Regions from separate parts of the Homo sapiens genome. Here region 1 is linked to region 2. The links come from fine-mapping of genetic effects on gene expression. Tissue or cell type: blood mononuclear cells. Region 2 holds a variant in brackets; the other region holds the start of a gene. Each region is shown on its reference strand, or each on the opposite one.

Region 1 (4,337 bases), not on the chromosome of region 2:
TTAATTGAACGCCACATTATGATATTTCTCTTTTTTGAGAGAAGGTCTTGCCTTGTCACCAACGTTGGAGTGCAGTGGTGCAATCATAGCTCACTGCAGCCTCCAGCTCCTGGGCTCAAGCAGAATTCTCCTACCTCAGCCTCCGGCGTAGAGCAGCTAGGTGCACAGGCACATGCCACCACGCCTGGCTAATTTTGTTTTTTTGTAGAGATAGGGCCTAGCTATGTTGCCCAGGCTAGTTTCAAATTCCTGGCCTCAAGCAATCCCATCAACTCAGCCTCCCAAAGTGCAGGGAGTATATGTGTGAACCACGGCACATAGTTTCCAAATTTTGATTATAATTGAGAAGGTTTTTCATGAAATGCCACGGTCTAAAACCTTTAAAAAAAATTAACAGTAAAATTAATGATATCCTTTTTTTCTTCCATGTTGTAGTTTACGGATGTTTACTAAATAATCCGCAGGCTTCCTGAACACATGAAGCAATAAAAAAGACTAACATTTTTCTTCAACTAAAAAGCGGCAAGGTAAAAAATCATCACTATTAATTTTTGAAGTGTATTAGGAAAATTTCTGTGCGTTCGCAACTCCACCATGAAGGATCTTAGATCTATTGGCGGAAAACTAGGTATGAAAATAATTATGCAAAATTGCCAGGTCACAATTTTGAAGCACTCTTCGATCTTCTTACATTTTGTGTTATACATTATTAGTACTTAAACGTATAATTCAAAAGCATTGAAAGCTTTGAACATATAAAATCCCCTCAAATCCCTGCGTACACCTGTGTACCTTAGATTGCATATGTAATCTGTCAGCTCTGAATTAAAAAACTAAGATATCAAAATTAAGTTCAATGGGGGTAGTTACAAAGTTGTCAAGAAGTTGGTAATTCTAGCTAAGCAGAATATTTAAAACACCTCTGAGAGCTTATTTACTGTGATTTGATCTGCTCTGGTCCACAACTGAGCTTTGATTCTATTACCTTGTGTTTATTTTTTTCAGGTGCTTTCCACCGCACATTTAAATCTTAATCCCATATTTTTAAACAATTAGTGCCTTTTAGATAAGAAATTAAAATGTTATTAAAATATAATTTTAAATTTTGATTTGAAGATACCTATAAAAGTTTAACTACACATACAATTCAACTTTTAAAAATTGATCCGACACAAATATTAATCCAAAGGTGGTTTGCTGCAGTATTATTTGTAATAGAAGTGTAGGCTCATCAGTGGAGGATTGAATTCCTCGGATGAAGTTAATCCACATGATTAAATAATTACGAAGCTGTTAGAAAGACCGAGCTGCATCTCAGTGCACGTGGAACAGTTTCCATCTCAGAACGCGAGCACGGGGAAAACACGCAGAAGACTGAGCGCCGAACACCGACGCCCTCTGCGAGCCAAGGGGCAAGGAGACCCTTTCGCGGCTGTGCCTGTCTCAGAAGGGCCTGCGATTTTTTACACAAGCACCCGCTGGCTGCATAAGTTAAACGGATCTCTTAAATGGAAGCGTCTGAAAGAGCCTAGGAATACACAGTTGGGTACCCAGCTCAGCACCCCGTCTCCGGACCTGCGGTCTCTCCCGCCCTCCGGCACCCGCACCCAGGAGCCCAGGCGGCCCTGCGCCCCCTGCCGGCAGGAGCCAGGCCTCACCCAGGAGTCGTCGGCCCGGCGCCCTGGTCCCCCGGTCCAGCTCGCCCCTGCAGGGCTGGCTGGAGCCGCGGGTCCCAGTGGCTCTGGGGACGCATAGCGCGGGGATGGGCTTCTCCTGGTCCCGCCCGCGCTTCCGTCCCTTCCATCCCTTCCTGCTCGCCTGTCCCGGGACCAGGGCCCCAGTCAAGGCAGCGAGTCTCCTCGCTGGCGGGGGTGACTCCGCTCGCGGGGCGTTCATCAGGAGAGCATAGCGCGAGAGGACGGGCCGAAGCGCGGGGACAGCGGGGACCCACTAACCTGAGGGCCTGGCCTGAGCCGCGCCCACAGCGTCCCCCTTGGCTCAGGCCTCGGGCGACCCCGGCGAGCGTTGGCGGGGGTGGGGGGGATGGGGGGGGCGGGACCTGGCTGGCGGCGACGCCGATTGGACGCACTATCGACCGCACCTGGCGCGGATTGGACGGGCGCTTCCCGCCTTCCGCCGTTCGCCGGAGGCGCTGCGGCGGTCCCTGAGGCGCAGAGTTGCGACGCTCGGCGGCATAGGGGGCGGCTCCACCGACACTACGCGGACGCCTCCTGCCGCAGGCAGGTTGAGCAGAGTGCCTGGGTGGGCTTCCCCCACGGCGGGGCGCGGAGGGAGGGTGGGGCTTCGGCTTGGCCTTTCAAGCCGGCAGGCGAGAAGCTTCCGACGGTTGAGGCGGAGCCGTTGTGGAAGCTGCCGAGGGGGAGGGGGTGCGGTTCTGCGGCAGTGGGCGGAGGGGAGGCGCCGAGGCTGGGCCAGGGCGTGGGCTGTGCAGAGTTCGCGGCGAGGGTGGCTCGCGCAGGCGCGAGGCTCCCCATCAGCACCTGCCTGGCCAGCCTCGGCCTCGGGGATGGGAAATGGGCGCTCGGAGCCGCCCCCGCGCGTGGGCGACTCGGTCAAGGTGGCTGAGGCGCGGGGCGGTGCGCTTGGCGAGCGGGGAGCAGGCCTGGGGCTGCGCGCGTCGCCGGCCCGAGGAGGCTGAGGGGTGCGGGAGAAGCGGTGGCGACGGGAGCCCTGGGGACCGCTGCTCGCCTGTCTCCGGGACATCTGAAGGGGGGTTGGCGCTGCGGCCTGGGGCGCATCTCGGGTGTGTGTGTGCTTTGTTGGTTCGGGGGTGACCCTGGGAAAAGGGTCACCGTGCCGGCGGTGGGAGCAGGGACTTCGCCTTCGGCCTCGTTGTTGCCACTGCCGGTTCCACTTAGGGAAGAAGGGAGTGCGCGCAAAACCTTCCTCCTGCTCGGCGCCTTCAGTCCCTTCTCTCCCTCCCGCCGTCCCCACCTGCGGCCTCTCCTTGCGGTTGAGGCCGCCAGCCCCTCCGCGCAGCTGGGCCTGATGCGTCCCGCGGCGGCTCAATGCGCGACACGTGGCTCCACGTGCGGCCTTTTCTGGACCGGGCTCCAGGCTGGCCGAGCATCTGCGAATACGGCAGCGTGGTTTTTTTTTGTTGTTTTTTTTCCCGAGACGGAGTCTCGCTCTGTCACCCAGGCTGGAGTTTAGTGGTGCGATCTCGCGTCACTGCAACCTCCATCTTCCGGGTTCCAGCGATTCTCCTGCTTCAGCCTCCGGAGTAACTGGGACTACTTGGCGCGCCACCACGCCCAGCTAATTTTGTATTTTTAGTAGAGACGGGTTTTCTCCATGTTGGCCCGGCTGGTCTCGAACTCCTGACCTCAGGTGATCCACCTGCCTCGGCTTCCCAAAGTGCTGGGATTACAGGTGTGAGCCACCTCGCCCGGCCTACATTTTTTAGTAATGATGGGAGGAGGAGGACGCCTTCCCTCCCCTTCATTCACCTTTAATGTCTTTTTGGACACCTTAGCTATGTTAGTTACCAGGGCAGAGGGGACTTTGAATTATCTACTGCTGCTTGCATTCATTCAGCAGTTTTTCCTTTGGGGGAAAATCTTTGCCTCCCCCATCTGCCAAATTGTTTTCTTTGTTGTTGTTTTTATCCGTAACGCTTTTATCTGCCTGCAGATACACAATCATCATCTTACTAGTTCTCTGTGTTGCTCGCTAACCAGTCCCCCAGTTCAGTAGACTGGAGCCCAGAGCCTGCTTACTTGTCAGGTAAATCCACGCTTCTCTTGAAACATTATTATTCTGTTCTCGGTTTCCGAAGTCGTTCTGTTACATAGTAGTAGTTCCTAAAGATCTTTTAAATTGTTTCCTTATGAGGCTGGAAAAAATAAGTGTATAACTTTTGTTTCTTTTTAGAGTTAGCCTTCTCTTTCACTTGCAAATGTTAACTTGTTTGATGTTGTGGATAGTGCTGTGCTTTTGACTCTATTGTGGCCTGTATGCATTCAGCTTTGAGGCATGCGTGTGTGTGTGTGTGTAACCTGATTATTCAGTTTGCTTTCCTTGGTTTGTTTTTCCCCAACTGACTTCGTGCAAAAGTAGATTAGAAACTAAAACCATCTTGTTAGCTTTATGTGCCTCTTTGGCTGTACTTTTTTCTGTGCTGTAATTAATGTCTCAGGGCATTTTGTAAAATACACTGTTTCAAATTGCTTTAGTTCTGAAAACAGATAAAGCATAGCTAATGGGCAAGCCTGCCTCAACAGTTGCTGGCCCTAGGGTAAGAGTATAAATGGAGCCCCCACAACATATTTTAAGTATTTAAAGTTTTAAATCAAGTTTTCACATTGTAAAATAAA
Region 2 (4,392 bases):
TTCCAGGCCAGACACAGTGACTCACACCTGTAATCCCAGCACTTTGGGAGGCCGAGGTGGGCAGATCACGAGGTCAGGAGTTCAAGACCAGCCTGGCCAACACGGTGAAACCCCGTCTCTACTAAAAATACAAAAATTACCAGGGCATGGTGGCACGTGCCTGTAATCCCAGCTACTCAGGAGGCTGAGGCAGGAGAATGGTTTGAACCCAGGAGGTGGATGCTGCAGTGAAATGAGATAGTGCCACTGCACTCCAGCCTGGGAGACAGAGCAAGACTCTGTCTTGAAAGAAAAATTAAAAAATTAAATAGAGTGTTCCTACTAAAATTCTTTTGACTGTGCAATATATTCAAACTGTCAGGATACTAAAAAGACAATACAGTAGCAAAAACTTCATCACCTAATACAGATAAAAGAAAATGAGAGGGTTTGTTTCCCCCAATTTCTAATGTAAAAACTTGTTTCTACCATTTCCTCCTGTCTGAGCACTCTCACCTCTTTACAGCTGTGCTATTATGAGATGCTTACGTATTACATATTCCTAAAATATATAAAGACATTTCTCCAAACAGATCAGGATAGGATTGCTTTTTTTACTCCCCTTAATCACAACTGAAGCTGCCTTAATAAAAGGTAAAATAGATTCTTTTTTTTTTTTTTTTTTTTTTGGAGATGGAGTCTCACTCTGTCACCAGGCTGGAGTGCAGTGGCACGATTTCGGATTACTGCAACCTCTGCCTCCCGGGTTCAAGTGATTCTCCTGCCTCAGCCTCCCCAGTAGCTGGGACTACAGGCGCATGCCACCACTCCCGGCTAATTTTTGTATTTTTAGTAGAGATGGGGTTTCACCATGTTGGCCAGGATGGTCTCTATCTCTTGACCTCGTGATCCACCCGCCTCGGCCTCCCAAAGTGCTGGAATTACAGGAGTGAGCCACCGCGCCCGGCCAAAATAGGTTTTAAGGCAAACAATAAATATCTTCTATCTTCACACAACTCTAACCATTCAGCCAGAGATTTCAACTGACACTCTTACCTAACATTCCTAACAGATTTGAAACAACAAAAAGAGGAATTCAATAAACCAACTATAGATACTCTCAATGCTAAAACACAAATGTTTCAAGAAGGTAATTTATTACAGACTTCAGCATTTAAATGTTAAGGAAAAGAGAGATTTTCATTCATAGAACAGAGATGAATGGAATAAATCAACACTTTCAAAATTGTATTTATAGGAGCTTTCCACTTTAAGCCTATACTACTTACACCACTAGCTTTTGCTAGCTCCTTGGTTTCATAAGTTTAAGAAGTATCAACAGAAGCATTTACATAGCACCAGCAAGAGTTCAACAAGAGGCCAGAAACACCAGTCCTCACAGGAAAATAGTAAACTATTTTTAATTTAGTAAAATATTTTAGTAAATAATTTAGTATAATAGTAAACTATTTTTAAATGTCTTCCCTTTTTAGAAACAAAATTAAAATCCTTAAGTCTTTTCTACATTAATAACAACCAGTCTGAAAACCTTAAAAATAACTATAAAACTTGCCTTCAAGTCAGTGTTATTAAAAAATAAAAAATATATATAAAACCAAGAAATTAACTATAAAACAACTCAATTCATCTAATATTGCAGGTTATCAGACGTTAACCCCAAACAATCAAAAAAGTCCAGGCAAGACAGACAACAAGAATAAGAATAATGCCAAAGTACATATTTCTCTAATTTTTACAACCTCCATACCTGTACCCACTGTCCCACCACCAAGTCATAGGCCTTTCCAAACCATACATACACCCCAACTTACCAATTGGCCGTTTTGCTG[G/C]GACAAACGCCTTCAGATTCTTCCCAGGGCGATTTGTTGCAGTGCCAGAGGAGGATGCCATTTTGGAATTGGATGTTGAAGGCAACAGGGTACGTGGTTTCCTGGATGCAGCCACCTTGGCATTGGATGCTACCTTGGAGATGACAGTACTGAGGGTTGAGAGGTCCAGGACTGAGGGTCGCAACCTGCCTGTGATATAAGCAGCTAGCCTATTGGCTGGATGCAATGCCCCCATCTGTCCCAATAGCAACTTAGCCTGCGGGTAACTCTTACCATTAACCTGAAACAAGTGGCAAAGAGAAATTCTGTAAAGATAAAATTCTCTTGCTAACTCCTCTCCCTTGACAGGGGCTTCATTTTTACAAGTTTTCATAAGTCTATTTTTCAGATTTAAAAGGGAAAAAGAAGTAGACTTTTTCCATTTAGAATAATCTGAGTAATCAGAAGGTAGAAAAATGCTGTCAACTGATATTCTGAACTAATCTCATCTCCTTCATATTGTAGTTTGAAAATAGAGAATCGGAAACTCATCATTTCTGCATCCTAGTTATGTGAAAGTTATCATCAAATCTAAACAACTAGAATTATCCAATTGTTTTCCTTGTAAATAAGGCATTCTGGTTAAGCTATTAACCTCATCAGCAAAAATGAGTGTCCCACAGAATCTCTCTGATAAGACCAGAGAGACATAATGAAGCTCTCACACAAGGGTCCTTTCAAGCATCCTTCATATTTGAAAAATATAAGTGAAATCTACTTTAAGTTATAAGACAATCATTGTTGCAATAACCTAAGCCACAATTACCTCACAGTTTTTCATTTTCAAAAAGCTTAGCTTTGAAAATACTATTTTCATCTCTTGGATAAAACATGGGTTCAAACTGAATGTTGGTACGAACTCATTCTTATTCTAGACATAATTAACTAAATAGTCAGAAGAAAGTGAACCAACAAATGAAGTAAAGATCCCCTCTGCTGCCTGAGTTTATCAGACTGCCCATCATGGGTACCAGCACAGTTGTTTTTTGTGGGGGTTGATTTCTTTTCTTTTTTTTTTAAAGAAAGAAAACAAAAACTTCCCAAGTCTCTACCCATGTTCTCTAGGTCATATTGCCAGGCAACTCTAGAGAAGATAACCTTTTCTATATTTCCTTTTCACCATTTCAAAATCGGGGGTTGGGGGAGATGGAGTGAGGTAGAATCTACTCTCTAACAGGGAACTGGTGAGGAGACCAGCTACAGCAAGCAACTCCATCTTCAGAGACACAAAACAAAATTACTCTTTGCTACTTTGGTTAAATTGTGATTATTCCCACAGAGATCAAGAATATCTCTGCCTTGAGTTTGGTACAAAGAATGTGATCATTCCCCCTGAAAGTAGACTTTACTGTAACTTTTCAGGCTATACAGAAATAGGTCAGATACCCCCTCCCGGATCCCTTGGGACTGCGCTGAAGCCTACTCTGCAGCTTCCCCAAAGTTTACAAAGTTTACAGTTGCCTGACTGCTTATGCAGACACATTCTATGGTGGCTTTGTGAGTCCTGGGCAGAAGACAACAAAAAATTTCCATGCTTGTATTTTAGGGAGTCTAGTCTCACTAGAAATTGTATCAGGCAAACCTCTGTTTTCAAAGTGTCAATCAATATATAAGGTAGAGAAAATACTGTTCTCCTCATCAAGAGTATAAGAAATATCAACAGAAGCATTTACATAGCATGCACAACAGTAAACTGCAATAATAAGTTTTTTAATTAAGTAGATCAATCATATTAATATTATTTTCTCTTTTGAGATGGAGTCTCACTCTGTCGCCCAGGCTGGAATGCAGTGGCGTGATCTCGGCTCACTGCAACCTCTGCCTCCCAGGTTCAGGCGATTCTCCTGCCTCAGCCTCCTAGCTGGGATTACAGGCACACGCCACCATGCCCGGCTAATTTTTGTATTTTTAGTAGAGATGGGGTTTCACCATGTTGGTCAGGCTGGTCTTGAACTCCTGACCTCATGATCTACCCGCCTTCACCTCCCAAAGTGCTGGTATTACAGGTGTGAGCCACCATGCCCAGCCTATATCAATCATATTATTAATGGAGAAGTCCTTAGTGACTTAGAAGCAGCCAATCTAATGAAAGTCAAGCTAACTTTGCAATAATATCAGACACTTCCACACATTTGCTACTCTAATATAAAAGTGCACTTTTTTTTTTTTGAGACAATCTCCCTCTGTTGCCCAAGCTGGAATACAGTGGCACAATCTCAGCTCACTGCAACCTCCACCTCCCAGGTTCAAATGATTCTCCTGCCTCAGCCTCTCAAGAAGCTGGGATTACAGGCGCGCGCCACCACGCCGGGCTAACTTTTTTATTTTTAGTAGAAATGGGGTTTTGCCATGTCGGCCAGGCTAGTCTCAAACTCCTTGCCTTAGGTGATCCACCACCTCGGCCTCCCAAAGTGCTGGGATTACAGGCGTAAGCCACTGCGCTCAGCTAGAAAAACCTTTTCTGACTATGACATTAATTCAGAACGTCTCTTTTCAAATTTTCTATATGCCAGTATAATTTTAC

The links. PIP is the estimated chance that this variant, and not a neighbour inherited with it, causes the effect. A credible set is the group of variants that fine-mapping cannot tell apart.
Region 1: SYCP2 starts here. The variant in region 2 is the best candidate, but not a certain one, in a credible set for the expression of SYCP2 in blood mononuclear cells (TOPMed, PIP 0.53).

The regions. Positions count from the first base shown.
Region 1 is chr20:59,931,472-59,935,808 of GRCh38, reverse strand. It overlaps SYCP2 (synaptonemal complex protein 2), which reads left to right and starts at 2,172. Exons shown (of 45, transcript NM_014258.4): 1 at 2,172-2,240; 2 at 3,655-3,747. It also overlaps a transcript of FAM217B not described here. RefSeq lists a silencer at 1,482-1,881.
Region 2 is chr15:41,737,623-41,742,014 of GRCh38, reverse strand. MGA (MAX dimerization protein MGA) reads right to left here. Exons shown (of 24, transcript NM_001400225.1): 14 at 1,812-2,109. Among named protein-coding and RNA genes, the nearest start is that of MAPKBP1, 35 kb to the left of the region's middle. The variant G/C (reference allele first, on the strand shown) is at 1,830.